Homo sapiens: one gene and its partners. The protein of the gene in region 3 interacts with the protein of the main gene of each other region in a pairwise test. Each region holds a gene or a part of one and is shown on either strand. Other genes may lie near its edges.

Region 1 (2,839 bases), on a different chromosome or scaffold from region 3:
GAGCTTTCCAAGGAATTATTTGTCCAGGGGCATATTATTCCTCCCACTACAAATTATTAAGATTGAATAGCTGACTGTTTAATAAAAGAACACCTCAGCACTCAATACAGCTAACTTGGTCCTGACACTCCTAAAACTTAAGTGGGTGGATGATCCAAATGAACTGACAGGCAGTTTTGTTTTGTTTTTGCAAGGACAGTTATAAAATAATATTAACACATTACTTAAGATCTCTAACTGTGAATGTGTCCTGGCTCAGACAGCATTTCGGATTCAGACGGCTACTCCTGCCGTACCCATTTCTCCTCTCAATATTGGGTTTACGCCTTCTTCCTTTTCATCTTTTCCTTCCTAACTCCTCTCCACAATGATCATTATTTTGTCTGACGCCTGCTTGAACATTATGTATAAGGCTTTACTATAGAATAGAAAGTCATCAGGAAAACATTTTAACAAAATAAGCAAGACAAAAACCCAAAGACTATACACAGTCCAGGACAGACCTTCAGAATCTGTTTATTTCACAATTGCTAGAGCACCATGTGAATTGGAATGCCTGCTTTGGCACTGCCATCTGAGCCAAAAGTGCCTTCTTTAAAATTCCCACTGTGGGGTTCAACTGGCAGGTGCTGTCATGGATCGAGGAAAGGGAGGAAACTTGGTCCTCACAGCAGTGATGTACGGTAGGGGGTGAGGGGCAGAGATGGAGCAAAGGAGCCAGCCACGTGGTCAGGAGGTTGGTTAATCACAGGGAAAATGAACAAATAAGCCAATGTATTGGAGACTCTGGAAGTCCAGTTTTTAAATATAGGGTGGAGAAGATACAATTGTGGAAAGGGAGAAGACTAGAATAAACTCTGTGGAGTAGATGTGAAATAGGTATCAGTGTGTACTTGTTTTTAATATATATATGGATGGATGAGGTAACAAGCATAGACGCATATATTTCCAAATTTGTCCACTGGGAGAACGCACAGTGGCAATGCTAGCACAGGGGCAATGAGCACAGCCTTTAGCATCCGGATCTTGGTTTTAAATACCATTCTCCACTAATATGAACCAGGACTCTTTGGAGAAATGGCTGATGTCAGGAGCGGGGTAGGGAAAATAGAAGACGAGCCTGGAACATCTTGTGGTGCCAGAAAGCAAGGAAGTGCTCAATGAACCATGGGGTATGTCCAAAGGACACAGGAGCTAGCTGGAAAGTGCTCTCGCTAGTCAAATCTTGGACAATGGGGGCATCAAAATAAATCATAACTTACAGATGATAAAACAGGGACCCATGTTCTATACTGATATAAATATTGAATAAATGGGGAAGAAGAGACCCCGTTTCTACAAAAACTTTAAAAATAATCTGGGTGTGGTGATGCATGCCTGTAGTCCCAGCTAACTCCAAAAGCTGAGGGGAAAATGGCATGAGCCCAGGAGTTTGAGGCTGCAGTGGGCTATGATCTCATCACTGCACTGTAGCCTGGGCAACAGAGCAAGACACTGTCTCAAAAGAAAAGAAAAGAAAAGAAAACTACCATTTGGCAATAACTGATCCAGACAAGGATCATCAATGGATGCTAAAAGTAAAGGGTAAAATTTTGAGAAATAGGATATTGAGAGTCTCAAAATAGCTACCCACAAAATACGTAATTCCTCATTAATTAATACCTGTAATAATCATTTCACTATGGATACATATACCAAAACATCATGCTGTACTTTTTAAGTTTATACCAAAAAACAAATACAAGTGGAGAAAATACTAACAGTGGAGAAATCTTGAAAACATCGTAACCAACTGTTAAAAATTAACATCACCAGTAATGGAAAAAATTGACATGATGTGCCTCCTGATACAATGCAGAGAAGAAGACAGCATCACCTCTCTGGTATTCCTGCCAAAAATTCACAACCTGAATCTAATCTTGAGGAAATATCAGACAAACCCAAAGTGCACATCATTCTACAAAGTACCTGGCCTGCATTCTTCAAAAATGTCAAGGTCACAAAAAAGGAAAAACCAAGGAACCGCTCCAGATTGAGGAAGACTAAAGGGAAAATGTAACTAAATGCGTGCTTCATCCTGATTGGACTGTGGACCAAAAAAGGAAAGGGTTATTGTAAGGATATTTTTGGAGTAAATGGCAACATTTGAATGGGGTTCGTGGATCAAATGGTAGAATTTTATCAATGCTGGTTTCCTGATTTTAAGTACTGTGGTTATGTAGGAGTGTCCTTGTTTTTAAAAAGTATACACTTAAGTATTTAGTACTAATGGGACATCACAATTGCAACTTAGTAACAAACAGTTCAAAAAATAATGTGAATACATAGCTAGAGAGTGGTATGGAAAATATGGCAAGATGTTAACAATAGAAGAATCTAGGGGAAGGATATACAGGATCTTTTGAACTATTCTACTTTTCTGTAAGTTTAAAATTATTTCAAAATAGTTAACAAATAAGACAAGTAGTATTTGAGCTGTTAGGAATTTGTCACACTGAGATTTTTGTTGTTTTTGAGACAGGGTCTCACTCTGTCACCCAGGCTGGAGTGCAGTGGCGCGATCATTAGCTCACTGAAGCCTCAATCTCAAGGGATCCTCCTGCCTCAGCCTCCTGAGTAACTGGGACTACAGGCATGAGCCACCACACCTGGCCAATTTTTCTGATTTTTAATAGAGATGAGTTCTCACTATGTTGCCCAGGTTGGTCTCAAACTCCTGAGCTCAAGCAATCCTCCTGCCTTTAGCCTCCCAAGGTGCTGGGATTACAGGTGTGAACCACTGTGCTGGGCCTACACTGATTTTTATACTATTAGAAAAATCTCTACTTAACGGTTTCAT
Region 2 (3,533 bases), on a different chromosome or scaffold from region 3:
TCCACTGCGGAGATGAGCATCAGGCACAAGCCCCTCCTCACTCTCACCCAGCCCACACATGTGCACCTACACACACCAGCACCCACGTTCGCTGGAGACCCAGGGTGTTCTGCCCCCTTGCTACTCGAAGCGTTGCCCCGCATTAACAGACGCTCTGTATGCACATTATATTTTGAAATGTGCTGTGTAAAGGCTGCAAAGCCACACCTGCAGCAGTTTCAAGAACCTCCACACATCCATCGTGAAAACATTCAGTTAGCACCTGGCCCTCAAAAGTGCTCCATAAACAATTTGAGATCCAGGGCTGCCATGTAAGGTTGTGCAGGTTGCTCACTGCACAAAGGCATTCCCCACACATCACACCTGAGTAGATGAATGGGATCCCCCATTCCATTCTCCAATCCACATGCCCTGGCTCAGGGCTGTGTCTGACCAGGGGAGGGATGGACACCTTTGCCAACCCAGGCCTGCAAGTCTGAACTCACCCAGAGGGGGGCACCGTTTTCTAATCAGAGTGAAGACCAGCAGTGTGGACTAGTGGGGGGTCTCAACTGTATGTGGCTGCTCTCACCTGAGTTCTCATAATGGCCTTGATGGCTGCTTCAAACTCCTCTGAGTTGTTGTAGTCGACTGTCCACACGTGGGGCTTGCCGATGAAGTTCTCCGCGTAGGGATGCTGGGAGAACACCTGGCAAGGGTACAGAGATTGCAGATGCCCCCCGTGCCTGCCAGTGGGACAGGGACAAAGAAAGGTACCCCATACACTTGTCCTATCTCCTTTTGCCCCACATCTCAGTCTGCCTCTTCCAGGACCTGCAGGGGTCTCTGTCCCGGCCCCTCCTGATCGGGGACCAGGATGCTTTCCACTCACCTCTCTGGAGGTGGGCTTGCCTCGGAAGAACTCGTGGTTGAGGGAGCTGTGGGGCGGGCTGAAGCGGGACTGCAGGAAGATGCAACCATTGGCGATGGCCTCCAGGGGGGCGGGGCCCTCGTAGGGGAAGCCAAACCCGATGAAGAGCTGCAGAGTCAAGGGGCGCAGTGATCAGGGAGGGCTGGGCCGCCACAGCCCAGTAAGCACCAGGATGCCGGGGACAAGGTGAGGCTTCGGGATATTCACAGGAGGCAGCTGGGCCTGGAGCGATTATTTTTGCTCAGCCTGTTATGTGAGCTATAACAGGGCTGGAAAAGCCAGCCCAGAACATCTTGTGCCACGGGCAAGCACTTCCCCTCTCTGGGCCTCAGTTTCCCCATTTGTGAAATAAGGGGGTCTAATTAGGTATTATCAATGGTCTCTTCTTGCTCTATCAGGCTATGATTTATGATTGTGGAGGGAGGAAGAAAAGAACAAGGGTTTCAGGCCAAGAAAGCTGCAGGCCCGCACCTGCAAGAGACCTCCAGGAACCTCACTCACTCATCCCAAAAACATTTATTCAGCATCTAACTTGTGTGAGGCTATTTACAACAGCAAAGACATGGAACCAACGGAGGTGCCCATTAACGGTGGCTTGGATAAAGAAAGTATGGTACATAGACACCATAAGATACTACGCAGACATAAAAAAAAACAAAATCATGTCCTTTTCAGCAATATGGATACAGCAGGAGGCCAATATCCTAAGTGAATTAAAGCTGGAACAGAAACCAAATACCGCATATTCTCACTTATAAGTGGGAGCTGAACATTGGGTACTTATGGGCATAAAGATGGCAACAACAGACACCTGGGGACTCCCAGAGTGGGGAGGAGGAAGGGGGTAAAGACGGAAGAATTAACTACTGGGTACTATCCTCACTACCTGGGTGACAAGATCCTTCATATCACAAACCTCAGCATTATGCAATATACCCAGGTACCAAGCCTGCATATGTACCCCTTAAACCTAAAATAAAAGTTGAAAAAAAATTTTGAGACGGAGTCTTGCTCTGTCACCAGGCTGGAGTGCGGTGGCACCATCTCATCTCACTGCAACCTCTGCCTCCCGGGTTCAAGCAATTCCCCTGTCTCACCCTCCTGAGTAGCCAGGACTACAGGCGCCCGCCACCACACCCAGCTGATTTTTTGTTTGTTTGTTTGTTTGTATTTTAGTAGAGACAGGGTTTCACCATGTTGGCCAGGATGGTCTCGATATCCTAACCTCGTGATCCGCCCACCTCGGCCTCCCAAAGTGTTGGGATTACAGGTGTGAGCCACCGCACCTGGCCAAAATTATTATTTTTTAAGTAACTTGTGCTAGGAGTGCACAGGGCTGGCCTCAAAGGCACTTAATAAATGATTCTGAATCCAGGGCTGTTCTGTGAGGTTGTTCAGGTTATTCACTGCATGCAAGCATCTCCACTGCCCCCAACACACACACACACACACACACACACACACACACACACACACACACCCCCAAGATGCCTTGGGAAACAAGCTATGGTGAGATCAAGAGAGGGCCTGGGGCCAGGTGCAGTGGCTCACATCTGTAATCCCAGCACTTTGAGAGGCCGAGGTGGTAGGATCGCTTAAGCCCAGGAGATTGACACCAGCCTGGGCAATGTAGGAAGACACCATCTCTACAAAAAATTTAAAAATTAGCCAGGTGTGGTGGTGTATGCCAATAGTCCCAGCTACTCGGGAGGTGGAGGTGAGGGGACTGTGTGAGCCTAGGAATATAAGGTTGCAGTGGGCCCTGATTGCACCACTGCACTCCAGCGTGGGTGACAGAGCAAGACCCTGTCTCATAAAAAAGAGGGTGAGGGGGTGCCTAGAAGCTGGCTGGAGACTCTCCAGCCTCAGCTGATACTCCAGGGTCCAGTCAGGGTTTTGCCCACTGTGTCAACTGCTGCTCCAGCAGTACAGCTCAGGGACCCCTGAAGCAGTCACTCAGGACTAGTGGCTCAATGGCACTCTAGCCAGGACCCTTCTCTCCACCCACCCAACCACCCCCCAGCTCAGTGTCTCCAAAAGCTAGGCCTGACCCAGGAGTCCATTTGGCTGGACTGGTACTGCAAGGGGGAGGATGGGCAGTCCAACTCTACTTCCCCATCACTGAGCCACGGCTCTGCTGCTCTGCTGGCCCTGCCCAGGTCCCTTTCTCTATAGGACCTCTCCTGCCTGGTGGGCACCCACATCTCTGCCCCTGGGCTCTGGCCAGATGTGGGGCTCAGGGCAGCAGAGCATGCTGGGGTATGTCCATATGTGGAAGGGGCCTGAGTGGTGGTGGCAGGCATGGGTGGTGACCTCAGTGTCTGCAGCCGGCAAGTGTGAGAATGGTGCGGGGGATGGGAGCTCACTTTGGCCTTGCGCAGCAGCTGCTGAAACTCAGGCTGCGGTAAGAGGCCGTGGTTCTTCACAAAGGCTGGCACCTCGGGGGGCCGCTGGCTCTCGTAGTACACGGTGCCATGGATCTCCATGTATTTGTTCAGGATGCCCAGGAACTTCTCCTTCCCCTGGAAAAAGAAGAGGAGGAGATGGGAACCACATGCAAACCACAGAAGGCAAAGTCCATGGAGGAGATCCCTTTGGTCTGGAAGTCAGAAGATGTGGACCC
Region 3 (3,533 bases):
AGCCGGGCACGGTGGCTCACTGTCATCCCACACTTTGGGAAGCCAAGGCAGGCAGATCACGAGGTCAGGAGTTTGAGACCGGCCCGGCCAGCGTGATGAAACGCCATCTCTACTAAAAATACAAAAACTAGCTGGGCGTGGTGGCGCCCGCCTGTAGTCCCAGCTACTTGGGTGGCTGAGGCAGGAGAATTGCTTGAACCTGGGAGGCGGAGGTTGCGGCGAGCCGAGATCGTACCATTGCAGTCCAACCTGGGCGACAGAGCGAGACTCGGTCTGCGGCGTGGGGGAACCTGTGAGCAGCAGGTCATGTGGTTTGCCACCACAGATAGGGCACAAGGTTCCGTGTGAGGCCCCTCAGTCAGGACGGCATCTGGGAGGGAGCCCCACGGAGGCTTCACGGCAACGCCAGCATGGAGGGAGCCGGCACTCACCTAGGGGGCTGTAGGATGAGGCTGCAGAGCCCAGTGTGCCCGGCTCTGAACGCAGGGGTGGCGGCTGCTGGGGAGGCGTCATGGCTGAGGAGCCCACCGGCCCTGGGAGGGGCTGGGACAGCGAACCGAGCGGCGAGGTGGACGCAGAGGATGGCGAGTGTAGCGATGGTGCTCTGGGCAGGGAGCCGGGGATGGCGACAGGTGCAGAGCCGGCCAGCGACCTGGGACCTGGCGGGGGCGGACCAGTCAGCGAAGGGAGTACCGCCAGGCCTCTGCCCAAACATCTGCCATGGGCGGCAGCCGTGGAAGACGGACCCTGCAGGTGGTGGTGGTGGGGATATGGGGGGTGGGAATATAGGGGCCAGGCCAGCCACCACCATCTATGTGTTTGGAGCCACAGCGCCCCCGGTGGCCATGTCCAACACAGCTGGGCAAGCCATGGGCTCAAAGGGATTCCAACCAGAGGTGGGGAGACGGGGGTTTAACATGGGCCCCCCCCAAAGAGGCCGGACACCCACCAGGCCCTGCCGGCCAACTAAGCCATTGGCACGGTCCTCCCAGCACTTGTCCAGGCCCCCTGAAATGGTTTACTTTCTTTTAAAAGAAAGAAAAGATACACTTTTAGGCTGAATGAAAAGATGTTGTATACGATGTTAAGATACATTTGTATGGGGCCGGGCGCACTGGCTCACGCCTGTAATCCCAGCACTTTGGGAGGCCAAGGCGGGCAGATCACGGGGTCAGGAGATGGAGACCATCCTGGCTAACATGGTGAAACCCCGTCTCTATTAAAAATACAAAAAATTAGCTGGGCGTGGTGGCGGGCACCTGTAGTCCCAGCTACTCCGGAGGCTGAGGCAGGAGAATGGCGTGAACCCGGGAGGTGGAGCTTGCAGTGAGCGGAGATCGCGCCACTGCACTCCAGCCTGGGCGACAGAGCGAGGCTCTGTCTCAAAAAAAAAAAAAAAAAAAAAGATACATTTGTATGGATGTCAATCTTTTGTCTACAATGTGAATACATTTATCCTTCGGGGACCATCAAGACTTTCAGGAAAGGCCCCGCCTGTCTCTGCGCGGCCACTTTGCTGGGACAAAGGTCAACTGAAGAAGTGGGCAGGCCCGAGGCAGGAGAGATGCTGAGGAGTCCATGTGCAGGGGAGGGAAAGGGAGAGGCAGTCAGGGAGAGGAGGAGGAGGTACCGCCAGAAGGGGATCCTCCCGCTCCGAAAACCAGACACCGGGTCTTGCCCTGTGGTCCAGGCAGGAGTGCAGTGGTGCAACCTCAGCTCACTGCAGCCTTGACCTCCCCGGGCTCAAGCGATCCTCCGGCCACAGCACTTGGCTGTTCAGCGGCTGGAGGAGCAGGGCCCCAGGTCCTCCCCACCCTCACCTGCTGCTCCCAGGTCGTGGCCGTCTTGCTCTTCCAGGTCCTTCTCTAGGGATGCAATATTCACATTGCTAAGATGCAGGTCTAACGCAGAACCTGTCAACAGAGCCCCCCATCATCCACAGCCCACCCAGCGCTGCAGAGCTCAGGAAGCCTAGCTGAGGAGGACGACCGTCCCACCTGGGCTTAGAGTGAGACCAAGGGCAGAAGGCGTGGGAGTTGCTGGGGCAGCCAGGGAAGGACACCCCCAGCCCGTCCTCGCAGCCCCCCACAGGCAGTGTGAGGCTTGGCTGTTCCTCCGGCAAAACGAGCGTGCTCAGGTGGGACGCCCCGCACCACAGACCAGCAGCTGGGTCCTCGCCTCTGACACGCTGCTGCTGCCCCTCAGAGTTTAAATACCTAAGTGTGTGTTAGCATCTGTCCACGTGTGCACATTCGACTGTTTAAAAAACTTTCCAGGGCCGGGTGCGGTGGCTCACACCTGTAATCCCAGCACTTTGGGAGGCCGAGGTGGGCAGATCACAAGGTCAGGAGATCGAGACCATCCTGGCTAACACGGTGAAACCCCGTCTCAACCAAAAAAAAAAAAATACAAAAAATTAGCCAGGCGTGGTGGCGGGTGCCTGTAGTCCCAGCTACTCGGGAGGCTGAGGCGGAAGAATGGTGTGAACCCCAGAGGCGGAGCTTGCAGTGAGCCGAGATCGTGCCACTGCCCTCCAGCCTGGACGACAGAGCAAGATTCCATCTCAAAAAAAACAAAAACAAAAACAAAAAAAAAACTTTCTGTGAGGGTGATTTCAAGGAGCAGGTGTTCACGTGCAATTTCATGCCAAGCACCAAGACCTCAATTCCCAAGGCTCAAGACTGAGTGGGAAGGACCCGCCTCAGAGTGGCCTCACCCAGCCAGCCCTGCCTTCCAAGGCTGTCCCCACACATCCCTGCAGGCCGTGGGGCTGCCCTCCTGCACGGGCCCTTCCCTCCCAAGTCCCCACCCCCAACCCCGAATGGCAAGCAGGGACCCCACTGCCCCTTCCTAGAATTAGGAAGCCATCATGAGGAGGCTGAGCTCAGGCCACCAGCCCCTGAAGCCACAGCGTGTCTCAAACTCCCGCAGCCACTGCACAGAAGTTGGGTTGGGGGTGAGGGGTGACCAGAGGATCTGGGATCTGAGAGCCCACGTGCCACCTGGGGCAGACCAGAGGACCGCAGCGGCTGCAGGAGCTCTGGGATACACCCTGTGGGCCGGCGCCGCCTCCCCAGCCCAGCCCAGTGTTGTGGCCAACACCGCACAGAGACCTCAGCAGCGTGGGGCACACCGCACAGGGACTGCCGGCCTACACTGCACAGAGACCTCAGCAGCGTGGAGCACACCACACAGGGACTGCCGGCCAACACCGCACAGAGACCTCAGCAGCGTGGGGCACACCACACAGGGACTGCCGGCCAACACCGCACAGAGACCTCAGCAGCGTGGGGCACACCACACAGGGACTGCCGGCCAACACCGCAGAGACCTCAGCAGCGTGGAGCACACCACACAGGGACTGCCGGCCTACACCGCACAGAGACCTCAGCAGCATGGAACACACCACACAGGGACTGCCGGCCAACACCGCACAGAGACCTCAGCAGCATGGAACACACCGCACAGGGACTGCCGGCCAACACCGCACAGAGACCTCAGCAGCATGGAACACACCGCACAGGGACTGCCGG
Region 4 (3,533 bases), on a different chromosome or scaffold from region 3:
TGAACATAACAATTGAAATCTGGATAACAAAACTAATTTTTCTTGCCACAGTTAGAGATATTAATACATATTTTATTTCTTGCCATACAGATAACCCTGAGGTTTCCAGTTTCTTGATTCATTGACTCCTTGGTTTCCCACTTAGTTTGCATGGTGTACCCTAGTCAAAAAGAAATATTTCAGAGTTCTGTTTATTAAATATTTACTCTACAAACAACTTTGAAACAGACTATACATTTTATTTGTAAATAACCACATTTTTACTAATAGCATTTGTATTTTCTTGGGTGCTGTTCAAATTCTCAAACTTTGGAATCAGATTTTTGTACTGCCACCCTCTTTTCTTGTTCCACATTGATTTTTGTATGTTCTTGATTTTTATTACAGCAACCGCTAACAACCTAGCTTTGTAAAGATATGACATCATCAAAAAGAATGTAATGTGACCTTATGTTGAAACAGTCAGATATTCTGAGCTGGTGGTTCACACAGTGTCGGACAGATGGTACCCCTGTAAAATGCTGTGCTGACTCAGAGTTCACTCTTTGGAAATACATAGATGGCCCAGCATAGGATTGTGTCTGATTTTTTTTTTCCCTGTATCCCCTTACAATATGTGGATGCATTTTCATCCTAAAGATGTGTTGATTAAAAATAAAGCAGAAGCATTTACTGTTAAAATTTATTTTTAGCCTTATTGGCTAAGCTCAATCATGTGAATTGTTGCAGAAAGCAGTTTTATTATGCCTGCTTTATTTTCTTTTACTGGAATCTAACAATTAGGTAAATAGTAACTTCTAAAATAAAGGTCCAAAAACAGCAGATATTTATTGTTTGTCTGTGGTACCTTGCTGTGTGCCAGGTGCATTTATATTTACCATTTATATACTACTTATATATTCTTATTTTATTTAAAAACACTTTCTCTAAAACTTAAAACAGCGATTCTGAAATTATGCCAACTCTACTTAACCTCCCTGTAGCTTAACCAGGTTTTCAACATGGGGATATTTCTTACTAGAAGACATTAAGGAAATGAAATATAGATATTCTCTATGAAACTAGTATTTATGACTTGATATAATTAAAGAGTAGCCTTACAGTTAATTTTAAGGTATGGTCTGATGGGAATGTAGATAAAACTATTTTCATAATTACCGCATGAAATACTTAAAACAAGTGGTAGTCATCTTACACAATAACATCTATATGCAAAATACCTTTTCTAATGCTGAATACAACCAATGTCATTAAAAGCAGTTGTAATGAAGTGGAAAGATCACTGAATTAGAGAATGAAAACTTTGATTCAGTTCCTAAATTGACAGCCTGTTAGCTGTGTGACATTGAGAGGTGACCCCCTTAACCTTGATGACCTTCTGTTTACTTATAAGTAAAATGCAGAAATAATGACATGTTTCTCAAAGTGTTTTTCATGGTAATGTAAGGACAGTATCAGATGTATGTTGTATGATACTACATACATGATGATGATGTATGCTTCTAGTGCATAGGAGCACGCTTGGGGCTGATCTTTAGCATCTGGTTCTGTGCCTGGTAGATAGTAAGTGCTCAGTAAATACTTGTTGGATTAATTATCATTTGACCCAGTAGTCTCACATTCAATCAAACTTTGAGGACCCAGAAAAATAATTCAAAGACTTGTGCCATCATAGCAAAATAATGCAAACATAGCTGAAATAATTGACAACAGGTTAGTATTATGAAAGATGTGCTCTCTCTTTAAAGAGAATAATTTTAATCATGTACTCTGTAAATTTTTTAGGAGGAGCAAAATAGAGGCAAGCCCAATTGGGAGCATCTAAATGAAGATTTACATGTACTAATCACTGTGGAAGATGCTCAGAACAGAGCAGAAATCAAATTGAAGAGAGCAGTTGAAGAAGTGAAGAAATTATTGGTACCTGCAGTAAGTAATAATTTCCAGACCTTAGATTTGGGCCTCGTCCTTTTTTGTCAGTTTATTTTAAATTATCGTAATGTTTATAAGGAATAGGTTATTGGTTGTTAGAAATTTTATTTAAGCATAAAATTAAAAACACCTGACTGATACTTCTAACATAATAAAAACATAAAGTTCGTATTTAGGGGTCCTTAGATAGACATTAAAAGGGGTTTTGGAGGGTGACGTCGCGTAAGAAATTATCCAGATGCTTTTGTGTTATCAGTTCTCCTTCCTTCCCGGTTTCTCTTTCCCCATCTCTTCCCCCATCTCTTCCCTCTGCCCCCCTTCCTTGGGTTGGCTCCTTATTGTTTCTTAACCCTTTAATATTTTTAGAAATAATAATTGTACTACTCCCAGAGTATAATTTTTTTTTTTTTAACGGGAAATGAAAAATAAATTACTGGTTTTCTGGGCCATTAATTTTTTTTTCTTATATTAGTAAAACTATATGGAAATGTGGACCCTAATTTGCTATTGGAAAAACTAGGGCTGGGTGCGGTGGCTCATGCCTGTAATCCCAGCACTTTGGGAGGCTGAGGCGGTTGGATCACCTGAGGTCAGGAGTTTGAGCCCAGCCTGGCCAACATGGTGAAACCCCATCTCTACTAAAAATACAAAAAATAAGTCGGGCGTGATGGCAGGCACCTGTAATCCCAGCTACTTGGGAGGCTGAGGCATGAGAATCGCCTGAGCCTGGGAGGCAGAGGTTGCAGTGAGCTGAGATTGCGCCACTATACTCCAGCCTGGGTGACAGAGTGAGACCCTGTCTCAAAAAAGAAAAGAAAAAACTAGGAATACTGTTAGTATTGTGTCCAACAAAAAGCATTGGCATTTACATAAATGAGTTATGGTTCCTGCTGCTTTTTATTTCCCAGATAGCCTATTCTTTATTACCCTGATAGTTTATTCAACAAGTAAACTCACAAATCATAAACATTTCCCATTAACTTGATGAAATTAATTCCTTGGAATAAAAGAGTTTTATGTAAATTCTGTTGGTAGATTTTATTTTTTTTAATGATCAGGTTAAATATAAACTAAAATCTATATTTGTGTACTATTAAACCATGGAATCTTTCTCATTTTCCTTAATTGTGTGGTATTGAAAAACTGTATAGAAAAGGAGATTTTCGAAAGTATACTGGGCAATTAGTGTCATGATCAGAAAAAGTTATTTAACATCGACTTTTACTGCTTTAATAACATTTTCTTTTCTGTAGCTTACTTTATTGTAAGAATACGGTATATAACATATAAAACATACAAAATATATGTTGATCAACTGTCAGGCTTCCAGACGACAGTGGGCTATTCGTCACATTTTGGGAGAGTTGAAAGTTACACAAGGATCTTTGATGCAGTCTGTGTCCCTGACAACCGAGCCCTCCCTTGTTGTTTGAGGATCAACTGGATATTGTTAGCGTCTTTTAAATTTTCTATTTACCCAGTCACCTGTAATCTCTTGTCTTGCTTACCATTTTTATTTCTAGTGTTTAGCATAGAGCCCAGCACATAGCAATAACATAGTAAATTGAAAAATAAATGATTGAATCTTGTCATAAGGTAAA
Region 5 (3,500 bases), on a different chromosome or scaffold from region 3:
TAGCAGTGGAATGTATGGCTTGCTTCTCACTTTGGTGGGATTTTGCCTGGTAAAATCTGTATTATAATAGGTTTAACAGTTTATTATTTTGTTTAGATCACATGAGAGTTCAGGAATTCTACTTAAAGGAATTTATCCTAAGGAGATGATGAAGAGGTGTGCAGAGCTGTATGAATAAGTACTCTTATCATAGTAATATTGTTGATAATAGGAAAATATTTAAACATCCTAAATGTCTGATAGTAGACATTTGGTTTAAATAAAACATACTATAGCTGTATAATAGAATACAGCTATCCCAAAGGGTGTACAATAGAAAAGGTAGTCATTGTATCTTGTTAAAAGAAAAAAATAGGCTGGGCGCAGTGGCTCACGCCTGTAATCCCAGCACTTTGGGAGGCTGAGGCAGGTGGATCACCTGAGATCAGGAGTTCCAAGACCAGCCTGACCGACATGGTGAAACCTGTCTCTACTAAATACAAAAAAATTAGTTGGGTGTGGTGGCGCATGCCTGTAATCCCAGCTACTTGGGAGGCTGAGGCAGGAGAATCGCTTGAACCTGGGAAGTGGAGGTTGCAGTGAGCCGAGATTGCACCATTGCACTCCAGCCTGGTCAACAAGAGCGAAACTCCATCTCAAAAAAAAAAAAAAAAAAAAAAAGATTATAAAATGGTATATACAGTGTGATTTTATTTCTATTTAAAAAATTTTATGTGCATAGAGTGAAGACTGGAGGAGTATGTTTCAAATATGGCTTTAGCTGAGTGGATTATAAATAATTTTTAAATTTGTTTCTGTTTCCTCTGTAGTTTTTAAAATTTCCTTTTTTTTTTTTTTTTTTTTTGAGATGGGGTCTCACTCTGTCACCTAGGATGGAGTGCAGTGGTGTGATCATGGCTCACTGCAGCCTCATCCTCCCTGGGCTCAGGTGATCCTCCCACCTCAGCCTCCTGAGTAGCTGGGACTATAGGCGTGTAGCACCATGCCTGGCTAATTTGTGTATTTTTGGGAGAAATGGTGTTTCATTCACTATGTTGCCCAGACTGGTCTTGAACTCCTGGGCTCAAGTAATCCACCCACCTTGGCCTCCCAAAGTGCTGGGATTACAGACATAAACCACTGGGCTCTGCCAGTTTCAAAAGTTTCTACAATGACAGTGTATTGTTTATTTTTGTTTGTTTGTTTGTTTTTTATAGAGACAAGGTCTCACTGTATTGCTCAGGCTAGTCTTGAACTCCTGGGCTTAAGTGATCCTACCACCTTGGCCTCCCAAAATGCTGGAATTACAGGCATGAGCCACCACGCCTGGCCGACAGTGTATTATTTTTATAATTTTTTTTATCATAAAAAGGTAACAGCAGCATTGAAGTTTGTTTAAATGGCATGCCATTTGAATTTGAAATTATTTTTTATCTAATTCCAAGTTTGAAAATTGTTAGTGTGTGTTTCTTTAAACACATGAACAATAAAGCTTACTGGGTAGACACACTGTTTTTGTTCTATGTGCACATTAGTATACAAAGTTTTCAATAAATGTTAAATGATAATCTCATGGTAACTTGTATATATGTTAAAGAAATCTTCAAGCTTACGGTAACTTTCTCTTGTATTAGCAACCTAAATAAGCTTTCAAACGCTGTAGAATAAATTTTTAACTTATTTTCAGAAAAACTTTACATTCCTCATTATATACTTTCTTTTAGCTTAGTTTATAGGCTTGTGTTAATCTTTATAATTTTGTCTACATCTGTATGATTTAGATGAATAAATAACCTTTTTGGCTGGGCATAATGGCTTATGCTTGTAATCCCAGCAGTTTGGAGGCCAAGGTAGGAGGATCTTTTTTTTTTTCTTGTTCTTCTTTTGAGACAGAGTTTCGCTCTTGTTGCCCCGGCTGGAGTGCCATGGTGCAATCTCGGCTCACTACAACCTCTGCCTCCTGGGTTCAAGCAATTATCCTGCCTCAGCCTCCCGAGTAGCTGGGATTACAGGCATGCGCCACCATGCCTGGCTAATTTTGTATTGTTAGTAGAGACAGGGTTTCTCCATGTTGGTCAGGCTGGTCTTGAACTCCTGACCTCACATGATCCACCTGCCTTGGCCTCCCAAAGTGCTGGGATTACGGGCATGAGCCACCGCACCTGGCCAGGAGGATCTCTTGAGGCCAGGAGTTTAAGATCTGCCTGGATAACATGGTGAGACCCTGTCTCTACAAAAAATAAAAAACTAAGTGAGCATGGTGGCATGCGCCTGTGGTCCTAGCTGCTTGGGAGGCTGAGGTTGGTAGGATTTGAGCCCGGAGGTTGAGGCCACAGTGAGCTGTGATGGTGCCACTGCACTCCAACCTGGGCAACAGAGTGGGACCCTGTTTCAAAAAAAAAAAAAAAGTGTTCCACTAATTTTCCTTGTAAGTTAATCTGTAAAAAATTAAAAACAGTAAATGAGGAAGAGTTGAGTATAAATTATTTAGGCCATTGATTTCATTTTTACAGACCTTAACACGTGAACAGAAAGAAGGAGCCTTCTCCAATTTTCCTATTTCTGAAGAGACTATAAAGCTTCTGAAAGGTATGCAGTTTGGTTGTTGTTGTTATTGTTGTTGTTTTGAGACAGAGCCTCGCTCTGTTGCCCAGGCTGGAGTGCAGTGGGGCAGTCTTGGCTCACTGCAACCTCCGCCTCCTGGGTTCAAGCGATTCTCCTACCTCAGCCTGCTGAGTAGTTGGGATTATAGGCGTGTGCCACCATGCCCGGCTAAGTTTCATATTTTTAGTAGAGACGCAGTTTCACTGTGTTGGTCAGGCTGGTCTCAAACTCCTGACCTCCTGATCTGTTCCAGTTGGGTTACCAAAGTGCTGGGATTACAGGCGTGAGCCACCACGGCTGGCCCAAAGGTTTGCAGTTTTAATGGATATGCAATTAAAAATCTATCACTAGATTTTGTAAAACTCCTGTGCCTTTTCTGACCAAAAGGAGAACATAAAAAGCATAGAGAAGTAGCTCTTCTTTAATTGCACTTACTTTTACATCATCCTTTTCAATATTCTGCCTTGTTTTTAGCTTTAAGATTTATATGCATTCGTCAAAAGTTTAGACTAATTTTTTAGTAATGCTTGTTTGTGGTAGGAATAACTGTGTCACCAGGTGGCATGTCTTTAGGCAGACATAGAAGAATTATGATTGTCATTTTCAAATGAATATATTTTTTCCTAATGCTAGTCGTAAAGAAGTATTTTAATTAAATCTCATTTTACAGGTCGAGGGGTAACATATCTCTTTCCTATTCAAGTTAAGACCTTTGGTCCTGTATATGAAGGAAAAGATTTAATAGCTCAAGCACGGACAGGAACAGGAAAGACATTCTCTTTTGCCATCCCCTTAATTGAAAGACTCCAAAGAAATCAAGAAACAATTAAAAAAAGCCGCTCACCAAAGGTAATCGTTATAGGGGGTAAAAGCTTTAAATGTTACTCTAACAGAAAGGGAAAGAAAGTTACACGAGT

The links.
Region 1: the proteins of UNKL (region 3) and CPSF2 interact in a two-hybrid assay, tested with the Homo sapiens proteins (one large-scale study listed by BioGRID).
Region 2: the proteins of UNKL (region 3) and MGAT5B interact in a two-hybrid assay, tested with the Homo sapiens proteins (one large-scale study listed by BioGRID).
Region 4: the proteins of UNKL (region 3) and QKI interact in a two-hybrid assay, tested with the Homo sapiens proteins (one large-scale study listed by BioGRID).
Region 5: the proteins of UNKL (region 3) and DDX50 interact in a two-hybrid assay, tested with the Homo sapiens proteins (one large-scale study listed by BioGRID).

Annotation. Positions count from the first base shown.
Region 1 is NC_000014.9:92,169,807-92,172,645, reverse strand, and holds the end of CPSF2 (cleavage and polyadenylation specificity factor subunit 2), read right to left. Parts: 3' UTR 501-2,839; downstream 1-500. UniProt on the Homo sapiens protein: Component of the cleavage and polyadenylation specificity factor (CPSF) complex that play a key role in pre-mRNA 3'-end formation, recognizing the AAUAAA signal sequence and interacting with poly(A) polymerase and other factors to bring about cleavage and poly(A) addition.
Region 2 is NC_000017.11:76,937,887-76,941,419, reverse strand, and holds part of MGAT5B (alpha-1,6-mannosylglycoprotein 6-beta-N-acetylglucosaminyltransferase B), read right to left. Parts: intron 3,433-3,533; coding exon 3,277-3,432; intron 1,019-3,276; coding exon 872-1,018; intron 689-871; coding exon 572-688; intron 1-571. UniProt on the Homo sapiens protein: Glycosyltransferase that acts on alpha-linked mannose of N-glycans and O-mannosyl glycans.
Region 3 is NC_000016.10:1,369,699-1,373,231, forward strand, and holds part of UNKL (putative E3 ubiquitin-protein ligase UNKL), read right to left. Parts: intron 1,914-3,533; coding exon 1,821-1,913; intron 660-1,820; coding exon 432-659; exon of another isoform or gene 309-431; coding exon of another isoform or gene 236-308; intron 1-235. UniProt on the Homo sapiens protein: May participate in a protein complex showing an E3 ligase activity regulated by RAC1. Ubiquitination is directed towards itself and possibly other substrates, such as SMARCD2/BAF60b. Intrinsic E3 ligase activity has not been proven.
Region 4 is NC_000006.12:163,533,197-163,536,729, forward strand, and holds part of QKI (KH domain-containing RNA-binding protein QKI), read left to right. Parts: intron 1-1,785; coding exon 1,786-1,929; intron 1,930-3,533. UniProt on the Homo sapiens protein: RNA reader protein, which recognizes and binds specific RNAs, thereby regulating RNA metabolic processes, such as pre-mRNA splicing, circular RNA (circRNA) formation, mRNA export, mRNA stability and/or translation.
Region 5 is NC_000010.11:68,907,815-68,911,314, forward strand, and holds part of DDX50 (ATP-dependent RNA helicase DDX50), read left to right. Parts: intron 1-96; exon of another isoform or gene 97-156; intron 157-2,492; coding exon 2,493-2,568; intron 2,569-3,253; coding exon 3,254-3,432; intron 3,433-3,500. UniProt on the Homo sapiens protein: ATP-dependent RNA helicase that may play a role in various aspects of RNA metabolism including pre-mRNA splicing or ribosomal RNA production.